Homo sapiens: one gene and its partners. The protein of the gene in region 4 interacts with the protein of the main gene of each other region in a pairwise test. Each region holds a gene or a part of one and is shown on either strand. Other genes may lie near its edges. The genes, in order: MKNK2, TEX48, MCM9, MESD, FAM13C, AKNAD1 and CNOT9.

Region 1 (3,500 bases), on a different chromosome or scaffold from region 4:
CAAGAAATGACCCAGCCCCAGCCTGCCCAGTGCAACAGGCCTGGATTTGAATCCTGGCCCCCAGGGCCCAAGGCGGCTTCCTTAGCCGGGTATCAGGGCCCACCAGGGGCTCCCTCCAGGGGTGTCTGGCACTGAAATGGGAGAGTGCAGGATGTGGTCTGGGCAGGGCCTGGCACACTCGCGCCTGTGGGTGCCTCTCCCGTGAGCCCCCAGGACCAGTACAGCACTGTGTATACTGACTCGGTAACTGGTAGCTGCGGGGTTGGGGGGCTGGAAGCAGATGAGCCTCTGGTGGGTGGCGGGGGCGTAGGTGCACAGAGCTGGCAGGGGAAAGGTGTGCCGGGCAGCTGCGGGACATGGGCGGAGGAATGCAGGTGTCTGGGCTTGGGTAGGGGCAGAAGGCAGGGGTGATGGAAGCAGAGCCCCCACCTTCAGCAGGCCCCAGAGCACCAGGCACTGAATTCTTACCCCGCCAGCCCCAGGCACTGAGCGAAAGGGAGGGGAGCAGCTTAGGGGAAGGAGAGGTGGTTGTGTGCCATCTTAGATGGGGGAAACTGAGGCCCAGGGAGGACTCAGCTGCCCTGAGATGGCCCAGGAGGCCGTGGGAAAGCAGGCACAGCCACCAGGCTGGCAGCCCGCCTAGTGACTCACCTCCTTCCCACTGCCCCGCTGCCTTTGATCCCCGCGACCCGCCCCAGAGGTCAGCCGTCCCCATTCTGTGGACAAGCAGACGGAGGTGCAAGACACGGCTTGGGCCCCACGGTGACTCAATCCTGGCATCAGAGGCAGGGTTCCCAAGAGCCAGCTGCTTGTGTCTGTCCCCTCCCCGCAATGCACCCCTTTCCCAGAGGCCCCCAGGGCTCTGCAGGTGGGAGGAGGTCTTCCCCACGGCCCTGTGGAGGTTGGGGCCCATCTTTCTCTGGGGTGGGGCTGTCCTGGGCACTGCAGGGTGCTGAGCAGCACCCCTGCCCCACCCCACTCCGTGCCAGGAGCTCCCCCAACCGGTCACAACCACAGATGTCCCCAGACATGGCCCAGTGTCTCCTGGGGGACAGAATCACCCCCTGGGTTGGCAAATTCCATGGACCCCCTAAGAGACTCTGCGTCCCCTGATCTTGCCTTGCTGAGGTGCTAGGAGGCCTCACGCCTTCCACATGTGGCCCACACCTGTGATCCCAGCACTTTGGGAGGCCAAGGCAGGAGGATCGCTTGAGGCCAGGGGTTTAAGACCAGCCTGGGCAACGTAGCAAGACTTTATCTCTACAAAACATAAATTTAAAAAAGAGAGAAATCCACACACACACTGAGTGTGGGGCAGCGAGGAGGTGAATCCCAGGAGCTTGGGGGTCCCCTGGTTTATGCTGTCTGCCCCTTCGGGAGTTGATCCTGGTGGGAGTTGATCCTGGTGTGTGAGCGGGGACGGAGTTGATTTTTCCGTAATGCTCAGCGCAGGGCTTGTCAGTGTGGACGCTGCGACACTGGGGCAGGATAGGTCTCCCTGCTGCGTGGGCAGGGATGGGGCCTGAGTGCCTCTCCTCTCCTCTCCCCTGCAGGGGCAGAACCCCTTCGAGCTGGCCTTCTCCCTAGACCAGCCCGACCACGGAGACTCTGACTTTGGCCTGCAGTGCTCAGCCCGCCCTGGTGAGGGGCCCGAGGGGGAGGAGGGCACAGGGCAGCTGCTGTCGCTGCCATGGCAGTGGCCAGCCCCTGCAGGGGGGTGGGGGCCGGCCGGCCAGGGCCATGTCCTGAGCCCCCTGGGCGTGCCTCCTGGAACAGACATGCCCGCCAGCCAGCCCATTGACATCCCGGACGCCAAGAAGAGGGGCAAGAAGAAGAAGCGCGGCCGGGCCACCGACAGCTTCTCGGGCAGGTTTGAAGGTGAGCGGGGATGGCGGGCATTGGGGGAGCCGGGAGCGGGGAAAAGCCAGGGTCCCTCTCACGCCCGCCCCGCTGCCCGGCAGACGTCTACCAGCTGCAGGAAGATGTGCTGGGGGAGGGCGCTCATGCCCGAGTGCAGACCTGCATCAACCTGATCACCAGCCAGGAGTACGCCGTCAAGGTGGGCCCGCGCCGCGCCCTGGGGAACCCAGCGCCTTGGGATCGGTGTTGAGCGGGGGTGGAAACAGTGTGTGGCATTCCGGCTGTCCGTCCTACAGCCGGGAAGACCCGTGTCTAAAAGTGGCCACCGGGCCCTGAGTCCAGTCGGGAATGACAGTGAGGGTGGCCCCTCTGGTACCAGGGTGGGGGCTTCAGACAGAGGCACTGTGCCCATTGGGTCCCCTGGGCCGTCCCTGCCTCTGAGCTGTCCCTGAGGGTACATGACAGTTTGGTTTCAAGGATCAAAATGCAATGTCATATCCCAGGGCCCAGAGGGGCTCTGCGTTTGGGGAACCTCAGTGCAGGCCCGTGAGAGCCCCCTGTGTCACTCTAGCCCTGGGCGGCTGCTGGACCCAGGGTGTGGCCGAAGGGCTGGGAGCAGGAGCCCTGTTGAGGCTCTGGTTGTGACCCTGTGACCTTGTGGGCCGGTTGGATCCCGTGTTCCAAGAAATCTTCCAGGCTTCCCTCGTGACCTGGCATCCGGCTCCCGGGCTGGGTGGGGTCCCAGGAGGGCTGGCTGCCTGGGAAAGAGGGCCAGGTGTGCCCTGGCGAGCAGGGCTCGCCAGGAGCCTGTGGGTCCTGGTGGACGGCCAGGCTAGAGCTTTCCTCTGAGGAGAAGGAGGAAGAAGAGGGGTGGCCAACCTGGGGAGGTTACTGGCTAGGTGCTGGGACCACAGTGGCAGCAGGCAGGGACAGACACAGTACGGACGGTCCCTGCCTCCTGGGAGCCCCCAGGCAGGCCAAGGCAATGGTGCAGGAGCACTAGGCCCCTCCGGAAGCACTTCCACACAGCAGGCGTTCCTCTGAGCACAGCCCTCTCCTGGTGGCCCAGCCTTGCTTCCTGTCTTTGTTTGACAGATAGGGACACTGAGGCTCAGGGGGTTAGGTAGCCTGACTCATGCTGTGTGGCCTCTGGGGGATCCTAACTGGTGTCTCAGAGCCACCTCCCTGGTCATCTTGCCACATTGACCTGGTGTGGTCAGTGTTGGGATCTGCAGAGCCTGGGGGACTTCCTGCTGGAGGTGTTGTTGGCCACTGACGTCCGGGAGTTGGTCTGGCCAGGTGGCAGTGGGAGGAGGAGGTGTCCTGGGCGAGTCAGAGAGGCGAATCGCTGGGCCTGTGGGTCTGAGGAGCGTTGTTTCGTTCTATGGGGACTGGGGTGTGGGCCCTCTGCCCTCGGGGTCATGCTGCGGGAAGCCACCCTGGGGTCACCTGGTGCCGTGAGGCTGCTGGCTGGATGCAGAGCCCCCATGCTGGGACCTCAGAATAGGCCCCTTCCATGCCAGGAGGGGCTGCGCCCCCTCCCTGAAGCAGCATTCTAGCCAGCCACCCAAGGGACAGGACGAGGTTCAGTTTTGTCCAGAACCATCTGCAGTGCCTGCTGGGCACAGCTTTCAGCAGCG
Region 2 (4,137 bases), on a different chromosome or scaffold from region 4:
CAGAAAGGCCATTAGAAGAACTAATGTTCCATGTCAGAAGGACAGCTGTCCATATCTGTCTACTGAGTCTTTCTGAGGAGAACTTTGCACTTAACATTTTCCTATTTTGCCTCTAAACTCCCAAAGGGCATTGTCTATAAATATAAATGAACAGCTATACTGCTTGCTTGTTGATATGGTTTGTTTCTTATGTGGAGATCAGACTCTTCTATTCCAACTATAATTAAGACTAATTGTTCTGCATGATGAATACTTAGACCATTCCAGTGCATGATTCTCCAGCACCCACGGTGGACTATGTCTTCTTACACAGAGTCTGAAGGGATGAAACCCTTCTTGGGGGTTTAACTACTAGTAGATGAAACAGACTTCTGAGGATTCTGAGTTGAACAATTTAAAGTGCCTTTTTTCCCCTCACCTTGACTGACACAGCAAATCATGTAGCCCACACCCTAGGGTACACCTGACCAATTTAAAATCCTTAGTTTGAGTAATTATGGATCACAGAAACCTTCGGGTTTTATTTTAGCTAATTAGGGGAGTCTGCACCATTGCTAACACTCCCGTTGTGCCTGGATTAATATCACAGGTGAGGTTAATCTATAGCTAAGCCCAAAGAAAAAGCAGCCTGGCTATCTAAGGTAGATGGTCATGCCAGGGAAATCATGGGGCATGACTCCAGAGAGGCTTTCAGATCTTTTTGAAAATACTTTTAATTGTCATTGTCCCTTTTTTTTTTTTTTTTTTTTTTTGAGATGGAGTTTTGCTCTTGTTGCCAGGGTTGGAGTGCAATGGTGCGATCTCGGGTCACTGCAACCTCCGCCTCCTGGGTTCAAGCGATTCTCCTGCCTCAGCCTCCCGAGTAGCTGGGATTACAGGCATGCACCACCACGCATGGCTAATTTTAGTTTTTAGTAGAGATGGGGTTTCCCCATGTTGGGTCAGGCTGGTCTCGAACTCCTGACCTCAGGTGATCTGCCAGCCTTGGCCTCCCAACGTGCTGGGATTACAGGCGTGAGCCACTGTGCCTGGCCTTAATTATCATTGTCTTGCATCATTCAGGTTCTGTTGTCCAGAGAGCTGAATGCTTTTATGTAGCCTCTGGTTTGACAAATGGTGAAACAAATGATTCAAAGAAAAAATGAGAAGAAATGAGGCAGACTGATACTCAAAATGAAAACCAGATCTCTGTACATGGAAAAATGGAACTGTGTTTTCAAGAAAAGCCAATGACAGTGGTGAAGATCTGGACAATCTTGGAGGGTCTTTCCTGCACCTTTAGTTGAGGGAGACCAGAAGGCAGATAATGAGAATTAAAAAGAGAAGCTCCCACATTCCTAGGTGACGATGGATTGCCCTGTAACCACGGTAACAACGAATCCCCAGAACCTGTGTGACACTCATTTAATCTATTAATGAAACTCCCTTGGTAACCATTCTAACAGACACATGCCAGTAGGTACATTTCATAGCTAAAGGTCTACCATTCCTAAACACTGCTGCCTCTGAAACACCACCAGTCCACGAACTCAACACCTCCCAAAGCCCCTTATGCATCAGCCATGAGCTTTGTTCAGAGACTTTGCCATACAAGCACAGTTCTCCCTTGTTTAACCAGAAATAAATTCAGTTTTTGTTTCATGTAGTGAATGCAGGCATCTTCCACCAAAGCAGCTTATGGATATACAAGAAAATGTAGTTATTCAAATTCTCTTTTTCTCTCTTTTTAATGCAAATGATAGCTTACTATACACCACGTTTTGCACCTTGATTTTTTTCAATTAAAAATAAACCGTGGAGATCGTCCGTATTATCAGCAGCGATCTGAAGCGCAGGTTTGTTGACACCCCGTGCTGATGCTCTCTCCACATCTTTACTAGAAAATTTTGCAAGAAAGAGGGTAGTAGAACCACTTTCTCCTCTAAGTGTTGACAGCAGAGAGCTTTGAGTTTTTGAACCCTCTTCAAGAAATGAAAAGGCTCTTAGGGAGAGCAGTGTATCAGTTACAAGCACATTCTCTGGGGGTATAATTCTTGGAGATCTACTGTTAGCTAGGAAATTTAGAATTTATGACCTCTTTGAATCTCTGTTTTCTGACCTGTAAAATGGGGATGAGAATAATAGTATCTACAATAGAAGGTAGTTCTGAGGATTAAATAATGATGGAAAGTGCTTAGCACAGCTTTCTGGTGTGTCGTAAAGGCTTAATAAATACAGATGAAGGTTCTGATGCTGATGAATATGTAGGGAGATGCCTAGGGGATGTGTGGCACTTCTTGCACTACCAGTGACCCCCTCTAGAGGGAAGCAGAAACCAAAGAAGAGGGCCCTTGGGTTGTCCCCAGTGGGTATGAACTTCAGGTCTCTAGTGACCCCATTGCACTTTGATCAGAAGAAAGATGAATGAGGTCAAACAGGAAGGCTTCTGGCGCTGCGGGCGGGGGTGGGGGAGGTCATTCAGCACAGGTGGAGACTGGGACCCAGAGAGAGAGAGAAACAGTGAGGTTAGAGCAAATGAAGGATGGGGATTGCTTCTTGGAGCAAAATGAATAGGTGTCCAGGAGTGGTGGGGACATTGTGCCTTTTAGTACAGAAAAATTATCACCTCCCGCCCTTTGGTTTAAACTGTGAGCCCCACTCACCTGCAGCTGGCAGAGTAGACAGAAGGCTGTCTGTGATGTCACAGAGCTGGGGAACCAGGGAATGTTGGGGCTGGGATGTTTGGACTGGACCACAACAGCGAGGAGGAGGGAGAAGTTCTGCTGAGCACGATGCCATGCTGGCCACCAGACTGTATACTGGGGCACAAGTCCTGGGGCCTCAGGAAGCACCTAGAGGATGGCCAGAAGGGGGCAGTACAACACTGGATGCTGTAGATCTGGGTGCCATTCTGTCTCTGTCCGCCCACTGGGTAGTAACCTTAGGCAAAGTGACTTCACGCTCAGGTTCTCCCTCTGCAATATGGGAATAATAATAATTTTTTTTTCTTTTTTGAGACAGAATCTCACTCTGTCACCCAGGCTGGAGCACAGTGGTGCAATCTTGGCTCACTGCAGCCTCCGCTTCCCAGGTTCAAGCGATTCTCATGCCTCAGCCTCCCAAATAGCTGGGGCTACAGGCATGCACCATCACGTCCGGCTAATTTTTGTATTTTTAGTAGAGACAGGGTTTCACCATGTTGGCCATGCTGGTCTCGAACTCCTGACTTCAAGTGACCCCCCCCCCCCCACCCCACCACCTTGACCTCCCAAAGTGCTGGGATTATAGGTGTGGCCTTCGCCTGGCCAGGAATAATAATAATTATATGTCCTGTTTGCATTTTTAAGTATTAAATGAAATCAGGTAAACATTTAACATGGTATCTAGATGTAGTAAGCACTTTAAGAAAGGGTAGTTATTAATAACATATGCAAAAATGAAGTGACATTTTCTTCCCTATTTATTTTTCAGAAAAGAAGGAATCACTTTGTATTGGAGTCCTGACAAAATCTCTCAGCTTATGGGGCACTCTTTCCATTCCTTTATTTAGGACAACCAAGTACTATTCATATATGGGGAAGCCACATTGGATTAACATGTTCTCAATCAGTGCTATCATTTGATGCACAGAGAGGTCACTGGATACAATAGAAACAGAAGAAAGCAAAGGAATTCAGCACAGCTGTGGGGTCATTCATGTGGTTGGGGCGGGTGATGTGACTCCACAGCTGTGCTGAATTCCTTTAATAAATATTTGATGGTGAGTTAAACAGCCTTTGAAAGCTCACAGGTAAAGCCACATTCTTTTTTTTTTTAAATTATACTTTAAGTTCTAGGGTACATGTGCACAATGTGCGGGTTTGTTACATACGTATATATGTGCCATGTAGGTGTGCTGCACCCATTAACTCATCATTTACATTTGTTATATCTCCTAATGCTATCCCTCCCCTCTTCCCCCCACCCCACGACAGGCCCCGGTGTGTGATGTTCCCCGCCCTGTGTCCGATGTTGCCCGCCCTGTGTCCAAGTGTTCTCATTGTTCAATTCTCACCTATGAGTGAGAACATGCGGTGTTTGGTTTTCTGTCCCTGCGATAGTTTGCTCAGAATGATTAAAGCCACACTCTTAAATGGTAATTGAAGGTTCTCCATTTTG
Region 3 (3,500 bases), on a different chromosome or scaffold from region 4:
CATTTTCTAGTCTTTTATAAAACTACACAAAATTAAAACTCATTTTTCATTTCTGGCACTCCTCTTTATGATCTATGAGCTTTTCAAAGCTACCAAACAAGCAATTCTAAATTCTGAGTATTTCTTGCCCTAATATTAGCTATAAATCCTTGAAAAAAGAAAGTCCATTTGTTTTACAGTATTTTTTATTAAGCTTGTATTATTTTATTTTATTATTCAGTTCATGTGAATTCTTTTTTTAGATTTAAACAAAAGCTAAAATGTAAAAGCCAATGTTAGAAGAAAAGAATTAAGATACATGTTAGCTATATGTATATATGTAATGGGGCAGGGCATGGCATTGTCAAGTTGGTTGCTATAATGACAGGGGTGGACTGCAACTGGCAATTAATGAGCAAGAACTAGTGATGCTATATGGGAAACAATTCCAAACAAGAAACTGTCCTACTCAAAATGCTAACAGAGCTACCACTGAGAAACAAAATATCAGAAGTAAGGCTTTCTAAGTGAATGGTATATTAAGTTCTAGGAGGTCCCGAGATGGCACAAAGATTCCTCTTTCTTAATGACACCACATTCCAGTCAATACTCATAATCTGTCCTCAGAGGAGCAGAGATCTTCTGGCTCAGAGCCTTTATTTTTAAGTGACTATGAGCACCTTAGAGTGGGAGTTATTCTCATTCAACTTTGAATCCATGGTGCCAAGCCCCATGCCTTGCACACACGCAGCATTCAATACAAGCATCATTCGCTGAATGAAATAGACCTTCTGCTAATCGTATCAAGCTTTCCAACAGCCGAATGGTGGTCCGGGCAGCGTTCCGGCAATCACTCTGCCTTTGCATCTGGTAGTACCGGAGAAGAACCTGATTGCCCACATCAGACAGTGTGGGCTGCAGATTCCTTATGAGGCAGAAATAGGTTTTCATCTTTTCCATGCTCCAGAGCTTCTCTGATTTGCTTGGGTAACCTGTATGTATCAGGTGTTGGGTCAGTAAGTTCTTAGGACAGGCAAACATCTCATTTTAAGGATTTTTATAAAGTTCTGGTACTCATTTGTTAAAAGATAACCTTCATGTTTTGTGGTTATTGAAATCTAGACTTGTCTGCATAGCATACAATCAGCATCTTATGATCTAAGCTTAATAAAGGTAAGCTTCCTGCCTTTATTAAAAATTATTCAGAATAATTCTGGTCTGCCCAGTAATCAATAATATTCAAATACATCTATTTTTTTTTTTTTGAGATGGAGTCTCACTCTGTCACCCAGGCTGGAGCGCAGTAGCACGATCTCTGTTCACTGCAACCTCTACCTCCTGGGATCAAGCAATTCTCCTGCCTCAGCCTCTGCAGCAGCTGGGATTACAGGTGTGCACCACCACGCCCAGCTGATTTTTGAATTTTAGTAGCGATGGGGTTTCATCATGCTGGCTAGGCTGGTCTTGAACTCCTGACCTCAGGTGATCCACCTGTCTCAGCCTCCCAAAGTGCTGGGATTACAGGCGTGAGCCACCACGCCCGGCCTGAGTAAATCTGATTTAAAGAGAAGCCTACATTTAGAGATTTGTTTCACAATTCATTCTGGTTTTATATGCAAGAGGTGAGCGTTAATTCTGTATCATAAGGTTGTCCCCTTTCATCATAAGGCACATATTTATAACAACTTTAGTCTCATTAGTGGCAGGTAGAGAAAGGCCCTTTTCCTTCAACTCAGTATTCTGAGGCCCCGTAAGTGGCTCCTCTCACTGCTTTCTGTCTAAGCTTTTCTCTATTGCCTGGTACTACATAGCCTATCTTGGGTATTTATTTAATTTTCTTGAAAGGGAATTTCTTTTAGTTACAGCTAATCTCTCTGTTATTTTGAATGCTTTGTTTGTCTTCACGTACCTTTATTTTCTAAGATAAAGGAGGAAATGATACGATCCCAGTCTTCATTCTTGGTATCAAGCAAAACCAGGATCAGGTCAAATCGACTTAAGAGTGGGCTGCCGAGGGCAATGTTCACAGACACGGACTCCTGGGGGTCGTACTGGCCTTTGGGGTTCGTTGCTGCCAGGATGGTGGTCCTTGTGTTCAGCTTGCACACGAGGCTGCCAGGAGAGACAGTACAATTCACTGATTGTGAGGTTCAGATAAAATGCAAGATTACAGCTGTTAATAAAATGGGGCTGCTCTTGCACCTTGAAAATCTACGAACTCCTATGAAAGAAAATGTAGAATGACAGAAGGAGATATCACAAACATCAACTTCCAACAAAGTATACTGAAACTATTCTATCTTAAAGAGAAGTAACCGTTCAATAAACACTTTTTATGCCCCTGCTATGAGGAGACCCCTTTGCTAAGTGCTAAGAAGTATCCAAAATTAAACCAAACTCTTCTTAAGGGGCTTGCAATCTACTAGCTATAATGTAACACAAGGCAGAATATGGTTAAGTTCTAAAAGAATAAAGTTCCCAGGGGAAATAGGGATGATGTATATTCATCTATGTGGATAGAAAAGATGAACACAGAAGCAAACACTGTGAAGCAGCTTTTGAACTGAACCTTTCAAGACCTCTGGACATTTTTAGGTGGAGAAAGACAGGCATTTGCAGAGGGGGTGAGGGTAGAGAGTGAGGATGACTCTGGAGAATAGTGAGTGGTTGAGGCAAAAACTTTCTGTGTATTCACTCATTTTGTTTTGATTTTTTTTCTAAACACGAAAGAAACAAAAAAGAGAGAAAGAGGGAGGGAAAGGAAATCAGAAAATATGATTGATTTGGCATTGAGTTTTTGAGGAGCCATTGTGAAGGGAAGTCTGATGAGGACTGGGTTGGTGAGTGGGTTGGACAGGAAAGGACTGTGGACAGGATGCAGGGTAGGGGCTCTAGTACAATGGTCCAGTAGAGGGACAAGGTAGTCCTAAATGGAGCGTGGCAGGATAGGGATGGATGTGACATAACTTAGATATTGTTTTTAAACTAATTAATGATGGGCTAGTTCTCAAAATAATGTGACATATTCATTGGCAATAACAAATGTAAAAATTTGAATCTGTAAATTTGTATGCTGTGCACTTGATGCCCATTTTTAGTTATAGTGGGATGTCTGCCTCCCAAGTCACAGCCCTATGACATCAGCAACATGTATTACATTTGTTAATCCCTGATCTATTTCTAGCTAGCAGCTACTTCATTCCCTGAGGCTGAAAATGTTTGAGAATCTTTATTTGTGGCAAGTGGCACAAGAAGACACTGATTAAATAAATAAGAGAAAGATAAACAAGGCATTTTTACCAAAAACTAAATTCCCTTTTAAAAAATTAGTGACAAGGAAAAATTCTGGACAGTCCACATCTTATAATTTATGTGTCAAAATGGCTTTTGTAAAGACAGTTGTTTAGAACTTGGAATATAATTTGCCATAGAACAATGTAATAAGCGGTTCCTAAGTAACCCACAAAAGCACATTTAACCCACACTGAAGACGGACTATTTGTATTTCTTATTTAAAAATG
Region 4 (2,284 bases):
TTTGCTACCTTTTGCTTAATTAAAGCAATTATCTCATCAAAACAGCTGCTTTATACTGGGCCATTATGGCTATGCAGGACAGTAACCCCATCAAACTGCCCTGAGTACAACAGAAAAAGCCCACAGACAGGGCTTGGTTCAGCCACGGCATGATTCAGGGACTCGTTTATGCCACCAGGGTGTGGCGCTCTCTCCCCACTGTCAGACAGTTCTCTTCTCCAAGGGCGGGGCCTACAACAGCTCCCGCTCCAGGTTCAAGATGCAGGAGGAACAAGAAAAGCCTCTTTCAGGGCCTAGTACCCTAGTACGGTAGATCACACAGGCCTCACCCTGGAGAGGGCATGGCCTGGAGGGTGGGGGGACTGCAGGGCAAATGTCCCATCCAAAGCAGAGAACTGAGAATGCAGAGGGTGTGGTTCTTTCGAGGGAAATGTGAGCAGCTACCAAATTAAGGGGAAACAGATGCTGTGAGGCCAAAACAAACATACATCACCATAAGTACATTTACATAAGTAAATGTACTTTTTTTTGGTGGATGGGCAGGGAGGGGGATGTGGGGGCACAAATTGTTAACAGCAGCTTCCACTGGGACAAGCTACCACCGGCGGCAAGAGAGGGATACACTTTTCACTTTGTACCATTCTTTAACACTGACATTTTCTAACCATGTAATGTGCTACTTTTAATTTATTAAAATCACAATTGAGGGTTTTTCCCAAAGAATTTTAGTTCTTAGAAATGACATCTGTATATAAATGTTCTAACTCTTATTCACAGTAGGCTCTAACATGAACGGCAAAATCAGACATCAACAGTAGCACATCATGTTACTCTATACGAAAGCACAGATTTAGGCACTTTATCAAAGAAAAATGTTTAGAAACAAATGAGGTTATTGAGTCGTCTGTCACACTCTGCAAAGGACTCTGATTCCCTACTTAAATCCTTTAAAACTGTCACATTAAATGGAACATATAACCCCTCGACACCAGCAGTACTCTTTCCTAAATAAGGAAACAAAACAGAACCCCTAACTTTACAGACCACATAAAACCTGACAGACACCAAGAGTTCTCTTACTGATGAGTAAGATTCAAGTCAAAGAAATTCAAAACTACTTAGGATTTCAAGTGACATATTTTCTATTCTCCGCATTTCCTGCATAGATTTTGGATTTACACACCCTGGCTTCCTGGCTACAGACATCTGAGTTCACAAAGCATATTTTACCTTTAACATAATGAAAATGATGTATATGGCATGAAGAGTTTACTCAATTAAGTCAAGAGTTTTAAAGTCTTCTCTGATCAGAATTTGCTATCTGATCAGAGCAGGCCACCCAATCACAGCAGGTGCTTGGAGGGGAGTGGAATCTCAGTAGAGTTGATGACTCACCAAGTGTAAATGGGAAAAAGCAACACAGTCACATTTCCATGTAAGGAGATTTTATAGTAAACATGAATTTGTCAGTGTCCAGTATTAATTAGAAAACATCTGTCTTCTTACTTGAAGCCTATTAAGCAGTAATTCTTTGACCACAAACTGGTCATGTGGCAGACCCTTTCTAGAAGACACTAGAATGTCATCCGGTGTGCAGTTGCCTGAGACCACTCCCACCCCAGGAGCTGGGCAAAGAGCTCTCCACGTCCACCTGTCCCCCCACAGCGCGTCACTGCTGCCCCATCACAGGTCTTCTCTTTTATTCCCAGCTCGATTTTCTTCCTTGGAAGACCGAGATTTCAGATCTCCTTCCTTCTTTTTTTTGCCCTTGTCTTGCTTTGTTTTATTTTTCTCTTTGCTTCCTCCTCCTTTGCCGGGGTACACCTGGCCCTCCAGAGTTACATCAGCACACCTGTCTTGACCGACCAAAAAGTCCTTGATCTCCCAGGCGTAGCTCCCATCGCGAAGCATGAAGATAGCACGGTCTGATCCCACAATGAACCTTGGGCAGAGAGATGCAATCAGTCAGCCAGCACGTACTAGTAAGGTGCTAAGGGGTCAGAGCAATTCTCTGGCACTTATCAGTTTATTTCAAATTCTACATGAATATGGAATGAAAAATTGGATTTTCCAAAGCCTAGCAGCTACTGATATCTCATGTATTAAAATACTAGCTTGCTGAACTATTAAACATCCAGCTCAGATCAAAATAGAAACAGACACTGGATGTTCCTTTGTTGTATAAATGGATGCCCGTGTTAAAAGTGAACATTTGGAAAACCTCCCTAGGACACTGCAGAGGTGGCTCAGGGGCTGCTGCTGGGGAGGTAAAGAGGCAGCTTCG
Region 5 (3,500 bases), on a different chromosome or scaffold from region 4:
TGGCAGAGGAAAATAAACTTTACTTTATATCATGGGTGAAAGTGATCATAACATTTCCTGAACCTCAAATAGTTTTGGCCACATCTTGCTTGCTGATGAGGACCTCTAATAGTCTCAGTTTGGCTTTTATGTGCTTATATTCATAATACTCATCTGCCATTGGTATCCTATCTTCCTTTTGTGGACTTCTGCAAAACAAAAATACATTTGTTAGTTCACAATGAATCAAGTCATTATTTAAACATTCTTTTATAATTCATACATGAGAAAGTATACTGTAACGGCCTCCACTTGGTTTTTGCATCATGTCTTCTTTTCCTTCCCTTTCACCTTCATTCACTCCTTCTTCCATGTGTTACTAAGTTTCTAAATAATAGTAACCTTTGAAAACTTGAATGTCATAAGTGTTTTGCAAATATGTGGTCTAGTGCTTAGACTTACAACAAAGGGGTCAGTGAAAAGATCTAAGGAGAAGCAAACAAACAAGAAACAGAACTTTCAAGGCATTCTTTGTCCAGTCATTCTTCCATTATTTGCCACACCCCTACAGCTGTACAAAATGATCAGCCCTAATACAGTTGTTAAAAATATTAACCTGAAAATACTACAGGAATTTCATTATAAAAATAACATAAACCTATGGTAACAAGAAAAGCATTTAGGGTCTGTCTTACAAACTTGAAACGTTTCCAGATTTTCTTGTAATTATAATACCTATCTCTGCTAATATATAGTAGAACCACTGAGCTGTTCCTTGATTGAAGTAATTGACAAGAGTCTAAATTGTGGTGGTTCTCTTCTGTACACTAATTCTACTAAGGCTAGACATGTAACAATGCATAGATTTTTATACATATGCAGCATACTCTTGCTGTTTACTTGGAAGAATAACTTGGTAATATCAGGAGTTAAAACCATTTGCCTTCCCACAAAAATATGTTGTCAGGAAACGTTTTCTAAAGGGAAAAATTGCGACAGGGTCTCAGAAGGCTCTTGTTTTCTTGGTTAATAAGATAGCCAATCGTTTTGAAAACATTTCCACCCACGACTTTGAAATTCAAGGGGTAGAGGACACAGATATAGTCACCACAATTACAACTGAATATAACCACAAGTATTCTCTAATGTTAGTATGGCTGAAACCAGGTAAATAGCATATATTTAATGTTTTATCTTTAGCTCCCTTCTATTTTTCCCAGTAGTGATAAAGAGATATTTCTATCTCTTACCAAATAAAAAACAAGCTAATCTATACAAATTAAGAATATAGTATCTACTTGTATTTCAACACTATTTATTGCCCTGCAATTTCTAGTACAGAACTCAGAACAGTATACAAATCCATAGACAGCATTCTTCTTAACTGTTGTCTAAATTATATAACATATATCTTTGCCTCCATTCTGTGTTATGAGTCAAACTTATCATGGCTGGATGTCTGAATACCACCTTAATTTGTATAAATAGATCTAAGTAAAGAAATTGTCTAATTATTACAGAGAAACATTAATAATCAATTATGTAATTTTCCGTAGTTTTGCATATTCCATTTTGGCTAATAAGAGTGCTTTGAGGCCGGGCACAGTGGCTCACGCCTGTAATCCCAGCACTTTGAGAGGCCGAGGCGGGCGGATCACAAGGTCAGGAGATTGAGACCATCCTGGCTAACATGGTGAAACCCTGTCTCTACTAAAAATATAAAAACTTAGCCACGCGTGGTGGCGTACGCCTGTAGTCCCAGCTACTTGGGAGGCTGAGGCAGGAGAATGGCGTGAACCCAGGAGGCGGAGCTTGCAGTGAGCCGAGATCGCGTCACTGCACTCCAGCCCAGGTGACAGAGTGAGACTCCGTCTCAAAAGAAAAAAAAAAAAAAAAAAAAAAGAGTGCTTTGACAAGAATGAAAAGTTTTGCCAAGTCTTTCCTGAAGGAGTTTCTCCATTATATAAAACATACTAAAGTGCTTAGCACACTTCCAGGCTAATAATTATTAATAATAATGTAATATCTGCATGATTCTCATGCCTCTTGTATGGCAAATATTACCAAGAACATTTATAGTGCCTTAAACATTTTAGTAATCCATTTGCATGGTTATTTTAACTTATGGATGCTTAGGCCTTCCCAATAAAATGTCTTAGATAAACAAAATTAAGGTCCATATTTCCTAGCCATTCAACTGTTTGATTTTAGTTGTAAAAGATCATCACTTGTGCATTTAGTTGAAATATATCATCACAAGGGGGCATAAAACTTCATAGACAAATACAGACTTATCTGAAGTGGGTTTAAGACTCATAGGTGCAGTGGAACACTATACATAGAACATAACTAACTTCCCTGTATGTATGACAAAAAGCACACCAAGTGACACTGCAGATCCAGTAGGCAGGACTAGTAGCACACTGGGAAGTTCTCAAACCCCTTACGATAGATTCCTGAGTTCAAATTGCTAAAAAATATAAATTTATTCAGGGAACTCAAATTTATGAAAAGAGTGTACGCACATCTTAAAGTGTCATTTCTCATATGTAATGACTGTTTAGATTTAGAATATGTGATAACATCTCCACAAATATTTCCCTGAATGAAAAATTCCCATAGAATACCTTTAATCCAAAAGAGGCAGAGATCAGGAACTTTATAGTGCAAGTCACATATTTACCCAAAGTATAATAGGAGCAGACAGTCCAGACAGACAAAGTTACTACTCCAAGGAATATTTTACAAGGAAAGTTACATGAACATTTTATAAAAGAAAAAAGTATGGAAAAGGAAAAAAATAACAAATGCTTTATATTCTAAATTTATGAGCCACATAACATTTCTCACTAGATTACTTAACATCACCAAAAAGGTAAGTTGGACTTGTAGCAATCAACTGGAAAGGAAGATTGTAAGTAGAAAATAAGTTGTTACATCTGTATTGGCTGAATGCAAAAAGCTTTTCACTCAATAGGTCCAGTCCTAAAGAATATCCCTGGTAGGCTAAAATGGAAAACCTGCCAGGGACTAAGAGGTAAGTAGACCACGCATGAGAGTTTCAAGGTGCTTTTGGAAAATAGTCCCTTTCCATCAGGACAACCCTCAACCTGCTGAACTGAAAAGTCAAATACAATACCTAAATGGAGAGGAATACAGAGGAGCCCATGTAGCACTGATGAGTTTAATGATGAGTTTATGAGTTGAATAATGAGTTTAATCTCATTTCATCTACTTAATAACTTGTGGCTTTGGGAAAGTTACACTCTTCATTTATTTATTTTTGTAAAGATTGATATCCCACATGACAGCTGTAGCTTCCCAAAGTATCCCAGGAGTCCAACCATTTCAGCTCATAAAATGGGAACTGAGGTTCAAGATAGCTAAGCAATTTATCTCTCTTCCAAATTAGATCAATAACCTTATCTCTTGATTATATATGTAATTTTGTTGATGATACACCAAAAATTGGAGGAAACTAATAGAGTGTATAATGAGACTTGGGTTGACACAGAAAAATA
Region 6 (4,191 bases), on a different chromosome or scaffold from region 4:
ACTGAGATTCCCTCTCCCCTGGAGCACCAGCCCAGGGTGACCACAGCTGCTGGCAGCCTCCCTTGCCCATACAATGATTATGTTGGGTGAGCAGATCTCTGAGGTTCTCTCTCCAACCAAATTTTTATGAGTCTATAAGCTGGTGATTTATTAGGTAACCTCAAAAGCTAAAATCATATGTTTGACCAAAATAAATTTTTTTGAACTAAGTCGTCCAAGAAAAAAAGGAGTACAAACTAAATGTGGTAAAAGCATCTGTGAGACATTGTACAAAAATCTTAATTTATAGACACATGCCAATGTTAGAGAACCCAAATTAAACAGATGCTCTGTTTAGAGAGGTGGAGAGAAAGGAGAATATCACTGCAGGATTATTTTAAATCATTTAAAGAGGGTAACATTTAGTATAAAGTGAGGCATGTCTTCATGAGAAGAATTACAGGCTATTCTAATCCAAGTTGAAGAACAAGGGAAAAGGCTTCCCAAGAAAGTGAAAGGCACAGTGGGAAAGCAGAAGTGGAGAGGCATGGATCTGAATACTCTGGCTTCTCTGCTTTCTAGCTGTGTGTCATCTGGCAAGTTATTTAACTCTTGTGAGTCTCGGTTGCCTTTTCTGAGAAATAGGACTAGCAATACCTGAAATAAGGCACTAAAGTACTCGGCATAGGGCTTGGCACAGAGTAAGAATTCCATACATTGTTGTTGAAAAATGAAAAAACAAAACCAGTCTCAGTATTGGAATACTGAAGAATGCCCAGGTCCAGAGGTGAGGCACTCCTTATCCGTGGGGATATTTAAAGGATAAAGGAAGGAATTGCATATGTAAAACATAATCTCGTCCAAGCAAGGTGGCTCATGCCTGTAATCCCAGCACTTTGGGCGGCCGAGGCAGGTGGATCACGAGGTCAAGAGATGGAGGCCATCCTGGCCAACATGGTGAAACCCCGTCTCTACTAAAAATACAAAAAATTAGCTGGGCGTGGTGGCGCACACCTGTAGTCCCAGCTAGTCAGGAGGCTGAGGCAGGAGAATCACTTGAACCCGGGAGGCAGAGGTTGCAGTGAGCCAAGATCGCGCCACTGCACTCCAGCCTGGCGATAGAGTGAAACTCCGTCTCAAAACAAAAAAGACATAATCTCTACAAGAACTTTAAGACAATTTTAAAACTCAATCTGTAAATAAATATATTTGAAGGTAAAAAAAAAAATCAGGCTGGATGAGGTGGCTCATGCCTGTAATCCCAGCACTTTGGGAGGCTGAGGCAGGTGGATCACTTGAGCTCAGTAGTTCAAGACCAGCCTGGCCAATGTGGCAAAACCCATTTCTACTAAAAATACAAAAATTAGTTGGGCATGGTGGTGCATCCCTATAGTCCCAGCTACTTGGGAGGCTGAGGCAGGAGAATCACTTGAACCCGGGAGGCAGAGGTTGCAGTGAGCCGAGATCATGCCGCTGTACTCCAGCCTGAGCAACAGCAAGACTCTGTCTCAAAAAAATAAAAAATAATAAATAAATAAATAAATCACTAAGCAAGTTTAAACAAAATATTGTCTAATTTTTTAGAACAAAAAAAAACAGAGTATCTTTTTTTTTTTTTTTTTAGACAAGGTCTCACTCTATCACCCAGGCTGGAGTGTAGTGACAACACCATGGCTCAACTGATCTTCCTCCCTTAGCCTCCTGAGTAGCTGGGACTACAGGCGCACACCACCACACCTGACTAATTTTTAATTTTTTTTTTAGAGATGGAGTTTCACCATGTTATTCAGGACGGTCTCGAACTCCTGAGCACAAGTAATCCACCTGCCTCAGCCTCCCAAAGTGCTGGGATTACAGACATGAGCCACTGTGCCTGGCCTGAGAGTATGTTTAAATGCCTACAGAGAGAATGGAAGAAGAAGAAAACAAATTCTAGTTTTGCAAGACTTTTAATGACCCAAGTATCAGTCCCAAAGTTATCCTCATGCTTTCTTTACATTTTCAGGAGCTCATTGCCAAACGCCATACCCTTCTTGTATAGAAAGGAAAGATACTTTGTTGGCCAAATTCCCACTTTTAAAATATAATTAATTAAAACTGATAAAATTTGAATTTTGCTCTGGCTCTCAAGAAAAAGAAAAAAAGTCCAGGCACAGTGGCTCATGCCTGTAATCTCAGCACTTTGGGATGCCAAAACAGAAGGATTCCTTGAGGACAGGAGTTTGAGAACAGCTTGGGCAACAAAGCAAGACCCTGTCTCTACAAAGAAAAAAAAAATTAAAAATTAGCCAGCAGTGGTGGTATATGCCTGTAGTCCCAGCAACTTGGGAGGCTGAGATGGAGGATCAGTTGAGCCCAGGAGGTCAAGGCTGCAGTGAGCAGAGATCATGCCACTGCACTCCAGCCTGGGTGACAGAGCAAGACCCTGTCTCTCTCTCTCTCTCTCACACACACATAAACACACACACACAAACACACACACAGACAAAGAAAGAAAGAAAGGAAAAGAAAAGGAGTGAGATACCATTAAGATAAACCAGAAACCTGAGGAACACTCTCATTACATACAGGAAAACAGCTTCTGTTGTTATTATTTTTTGCATGTGTGCATGCAAAATATCAAGAGGATTTTTTCTGGAAAAGGACAATCCATACCCTTAGCAAGGTAATGAGCTTCTTTGAGATAACTGGAGGAACTGGAGCATCTTCCCATGTCAACACTTGGCTCAATCTTGAAATCCAAAGGCATATCCAAAGAGGTTCCACTCAGAATCCAACAGAACCTTTCTGTAGAATCCAAATTGATTTTCTGAAGTCAGGTGACTACATTTGGGGCCACGCCTGCTTATGCAGCTATCTTGACCATTATGTGCTCAGCAATACCTCACAAGTCACTCTGAGATGAACACTTTGAGCAAACAGGGCCAGGACATCACAGTGACCCAGGCTGTGAAAACACTTCAGGCCAGTCCCTGAGTAGGAATGGACAACAAGGTGGTCACCATGCTGACAGCTATTCCCTGTGTGATTTACTTTATTATGAAGTCTAAATTTGATGCTGAAGTGCTAGCCTAAGCTCACTAACCTGCCAACTTAGAGAAGAAGGTAACCATGGCTAGGATGACTGGGAATCTGATGGACTCAATTAAGAATTTCTACAGATGGGAAAACCAAAACTCCTTAGTGGCAAGAGGCCAAAGATGGTCAGCGAATTGTTGTTTCCGGCTGGTAGGTGACATTTCTTCTATTCGCTAAGCCCATTTTGTGATAACACAGTTTTCCATATTGACAGGATTGTTTTCATCACCAAAGGAAAACCGTGGGTCCATGTTCCTGTGACAATCTCTTTGTCTCATTCCCAACACCCTCTGTTCTGTGTTTAAACCTCTACAAACCAGGCAAACTGGGGACTATGTGTAGGACCCAGACATGGAGGAGAAAGCAGGCATTGTTTCTACTTACCTTATCTGCCCCTCCACTAAGGTACCAGTTAGTACAACCACGTAACACTCACAAGTCCTACACTTCTAAGATCAGCCCTACTGACTTTGTCACGGTAAGAGTTGGCTGTTGGAGGCAATGATTCAACAATCTAAATTCTGATTATTCCTTTTTGTATCTGTCATTTAGAATGTGAATAGTGTACATCTAAAAGCTTTAAGTACATTATCCATCAATTTTTACTACACAAAGCAGTATGCTGCTCTGTCTTCAAACAGCACAATGCTACAGTCAACACAAAGGGCAAAACCATGGCAATATGGCAATTGCAATAGAAACTCACCAACATCTTGGAGTCTCTGGATATCACAGGTGAACAAGTTGAAGGGCCTTGCGACACAGACAAGCAACCCTTTAATTCTAAATCATCTTTTTTTCAACAGTTGGAAGTTGACTGCAGTTGAATAACAGAACAAAAACGGAGCTTCAAAATCATGGCGTGCCTGCTTCTTCTGGGTTCTTTTAACTGCAAGCAATCAGCTTTGAAGAGCACGTAGGGAACTTCTGATGTGATACAAACTTTTGTCTTTTTTTTTTTTTTTGTCTTTTAAGAGCATTCAAAAACACTTGGTCTGGCTGTTTCAATTTTCTCTTTCTCTCCTATTCCTAGCTCAAGAATAACATTTACATATGAAAGAAAATAGGAGATGGCTCAGAATAATATGTCCAAGGCCACGCCCAGGCGTCAGGGATTCATGAATTTTGTATACA
Region 7 (2,371 bases), on a different chromosome or scaffold from region 4:
AAACTTGGATTGAAGGTGAGGTCCACCACCGCCCCTTGTCTCCCAATACAATACCCTTCCAAGACAGCCTGATTAATTAAGACATCTGTTTTAAGTTTAATAGAAGGGAAGTTCAAAAAGGGAAAGCACTGAGATTTGGGAAAACTAGCAGCTAAAGCCAGAAACAAGGTTAAGGTCCTCGTGGCATTCCGGACTGGGAGTAGAATGGGAGAAGGAAGGGAAACAGGTGGTGGGTTCCTGCTGTACTTTGGCTTTACATCTTTCCCCTGCCCTCCCATTTCTCCCAACAGCTTGATGCAGCTATTGGCCTGCCAGAGGGGATGTAATGCCCAGACCAACTTTTTATTGAGCTTATGCAGCTAACAGACTTGTAAACAGTGCCAGTCGACAAAGTTTTGCTGAATATTACAGCTTGTGCCCACTAAACACACCTCTCTCTGAGATTAAAAACAAAAAAACCAAAGTAAACAAATACTGAGAGAGAATGAAGAGACATATCTTGAGTCTTCCAGAAAGGCAAAATAAAAAACGCCACATGGCTTGGTCCCAGGCGTTCACCATGCCTAGAGTGCTGCTGCTATCACCACTGTCTCCCCTCCCTGCCAGTGGCTAGGTAGAGGTAGGGGAGAAGGGTCATCTTGGACATGCTGCAAATACAGCATTTGCTGGTGTTGACACCCTCCTGGGGCTGTGGTGGCAGACTGCTGTGTCAGGAGCCCATTTCCTGGGAGTAGCAGAGGGAGCCCAGGTCCTCAAGACAGCCTGAGATGGCAGCCCATACACCTCAGCAGGGGTACCTTGCCCCTTTTCTCCAGTGCGGTTCAGCATTGAGGTTGTCTATTCCCAGTCGGTGATAAAACCTGAGCTGTTTTTCTCGTAGGTTCCCCCTCCTTTCCCCAACTTGGGGGAGTAGTGGGAGGGAACAGGGAAGGATCACTGAGGGGGCAGGGGGATACCCCGGGGATCGGTGACCTGGCCCTCTTGCAGGTTCTTCACCAGTTGTGCAAGCCAGCGTTTCGTGGTGGTGTCATCTTTTAGCACCTGGGCGAAGGTTGTGTCTTTCAGCTGGTCAGGGAGGCACTGTCTGAGTGCTTCACGTGCCCTACATCAGAAACAAACAAACCAACCAGGGAGACCAACAAATAAACCCACATTTTGTGGACAGGGAAGAGCCCCCTTCTTAGACATAAATATTTAGAATACTGTGAATCTATGGCTCCTTAAGAAGCCATTAAAATTCTCTAAAGCTATATTAGGCATAGGCTTAGAGATCTCCAAAATCTGTATCCACAAATATTTTCTGAATGATGCCCCAATGTAGAATTTCATGAAAAAGCAAAATTAAAAGGTTCAATAGTTTACTTCCATTCAAACAGCTTTCTGATTTATTAAATACTGTCAAAATACTCATGTTAGAAATATATGGATTATGGCAAATAAAATAATTCAAAAATCAGTACATTAACAAGGATATCATCAAACTTATGATAACTTAATGAATTTTAATTCTATACTAAGTTATCAATTTGTGTCTTTACAGAAATTGCTTCAGTTTTATGGTTAAAAACCTTAATAAGAGATGAGCAGTGAAAACAAAACTATGGTAGCAGTATTATCAGATGAACTTTTAAACGTTTCATTTTCTTTGAAAAGATGACCAGCAGAAAGTCAAATCTGAAAACCTAAAAAAGGTAAATGTTAACTATGTGTAGAGCTATTTTAAACAAAGTTATAGTTTTTGCACTCAGACTAGTTTTCTTTGTACAAGTAGAATTTTAAATAAACACATTTTTAAACTTTAGTGAAACAAGAACCACTGAAGAACAGGATAAAATGGTCAACAAACAGGTAGGGCTTGAATAAACTCAGTGGCAGGAGACTGAGTTCACATTAAATCAAATCAAGCTAGCTCTCTTCCCAGGAACACAGAAATTGCTCCATTACGTGGTTTAGCAGAATATGAGCAGGTTGCTTTCAGCATGAATTATGGATTTACAAAGCAAAAGGTCAAACATTTCTAAAATGCATTATATCTACAGTGTATGATTTCTGGCAGAAAGATTATGAACATAAGCAGATAAAATAATTAGCTCAAGAAACTTATAGGAATCAAGGACAGAATTGGAAATAGAATTCAAGAGCCCTCTGGGCTGTGTTCCTTTTTAAGAGATCTTTGAAAATATACTTCTCTCTCTGACCACGTAGAGTAGCAACAGAAAATTCAAACAACAGGAGTAATGCATCATAAGGTTTCCTTTGGAATCGCCTAGACTCTCTGGAATTTCACAGTAGGATGGAGAGTTACAGTGAGAAGATGAAACTGATGGCTACTAAAATTCAGCATTTCAGATTTTTAAAAGAATCTAAGTTC

What was found.
Region 1: the proteins of MESD (region 4) and MKNK2 interact in binary tests that used the Homo sapiens proteins (3 or more experiments, as listed by UniProt).
Region 2: the proteins of MESD (region 4) and TEX48 interact in binary tests that used the Homo sapiens proteins (3 or more experiments, as listed by UniProt).
Region 3: the proteins of MESD (region 4) and MCM9 interact in binary tests that used the Homo sapiens proteins (3 or more experiments, as listed by UniProt).
Region 5: the proteins of MESD (region 4) and FAM13C interact in binary tests that used the Homo sapiens proteins (3 or more experiments, as listed by UniProt).
Region 6: the proteins of MESD (region 4) and AKNAD1 interact in binary tests that used the Homo sapiens proteins (3 or more experiments, as listed by UniProt).
Region 7: the proteins of MESD (region 4) and CNOT9 interact in binary tests that used the Homo sapiens proteins (3 or more experiments, as listed by UniProt).

What each region holds. Positions count from the first base shown.
Region 1 is NC_000019.10:2,044,745-2,048,244, reverse strand, and holds part of MKNK2 (MAP kinase-interacting serine/threonine-protein kinase 2), read left to right. Parts: intron 1-1,553; coding exon 1,554-1,641; intron 1,642-1,776; coding exon 1,777-1,878; intron 1,879-1,961; coding exon 1,962-2,059; intron 2,060-3,500. UniProt on the Homo sapiens protein: Serine/threonine-protein kinase that phosphorylates SFPQ/PSF, HNRNPA1 and EIF4E. May play a role in the response to environmental stress and cytokines.
Region 2 is NC_000009.12:114,679,393-114,683,529, forward strand, and holds the start of TEX48 (testis-expressed protein 48), read right to left. Parts: upstream 2,801-4,137; 5' UTR 2,643-2,800; intron 2,474-2,642; exon of another isoform or gene 1,767-2,473; intron 1-1,766.
Region 3 is NC_000006.12:118,827,160-118,830,659, forward strand, and holds part of MCM9 (DNA helicase MCM9), read right to left. Parts: intron 2,092-3,500; coding exon 1,889-2,091; intron 972-1,888; coding exon 768-971; intron 1-767. UniProt on the Homo sapiens protein: Component of the MCM8-MCM9 complex, a complex involved in the repair of double-stranded DNA breaks (DBSs) and DNA interstrand cross-links (ICLs) by homologous recombination (HR).
Region 4 is NC_000015.10:80,977,536-80,979,819, forward strand, and holds part of MESD (LRP chaperone MESD precursor), read right to left. Parts: intron 1,943-2,284; coding exon 1,684-1,942; 3' UTR 1-1,683. UniProt on the Homo sapiens protein: Chaperone specifically assisting the folding of beta-propeller/EGF modules within the family of low-density lipoprotein receptors (LDLRs).
Region 5 is NC_000010.11:59,247,550-59,251,049, forward strand, and holds part of FAM13C (protein FAM13C), read right to left. Parts: intron 222-3,500; exon of another isoform or gene 189-221; coding exon 65-188; 3' UTR 1-64.
Region 6 is NC_000001.11:108,854,295-108,858,485, forward strand, and holds the start of AKNAD1 (protein AKNAD1), read right to left. Parts: upstream 2,801-4,191; 5' UTR 2,635-2,800; intron 1-2,634.
Region 7 is NC_000002.12:218,592,839-218,595,209, reverse strand, and holds part of CNOT9 (CCR4-NOT transcription complex subunit 9), read right to left. Parts: intron 1,683-2,371; coding exon of another isoform or gene 1,637-1,682; exon of another isoform or gene 1,363-1,636; intron 1,103-1,362; coding exon 934-1,102; 3' UTR 1-933. UniProt on the Homo sapiens protein: Component of the CCR4-NOT complex which is one of the major cellular mRNA deadenylases and is linked to various cellular processes including bulk mRNA degradation, miRNA-mediated repression, translational repression during translational initiation and general transcription regulation.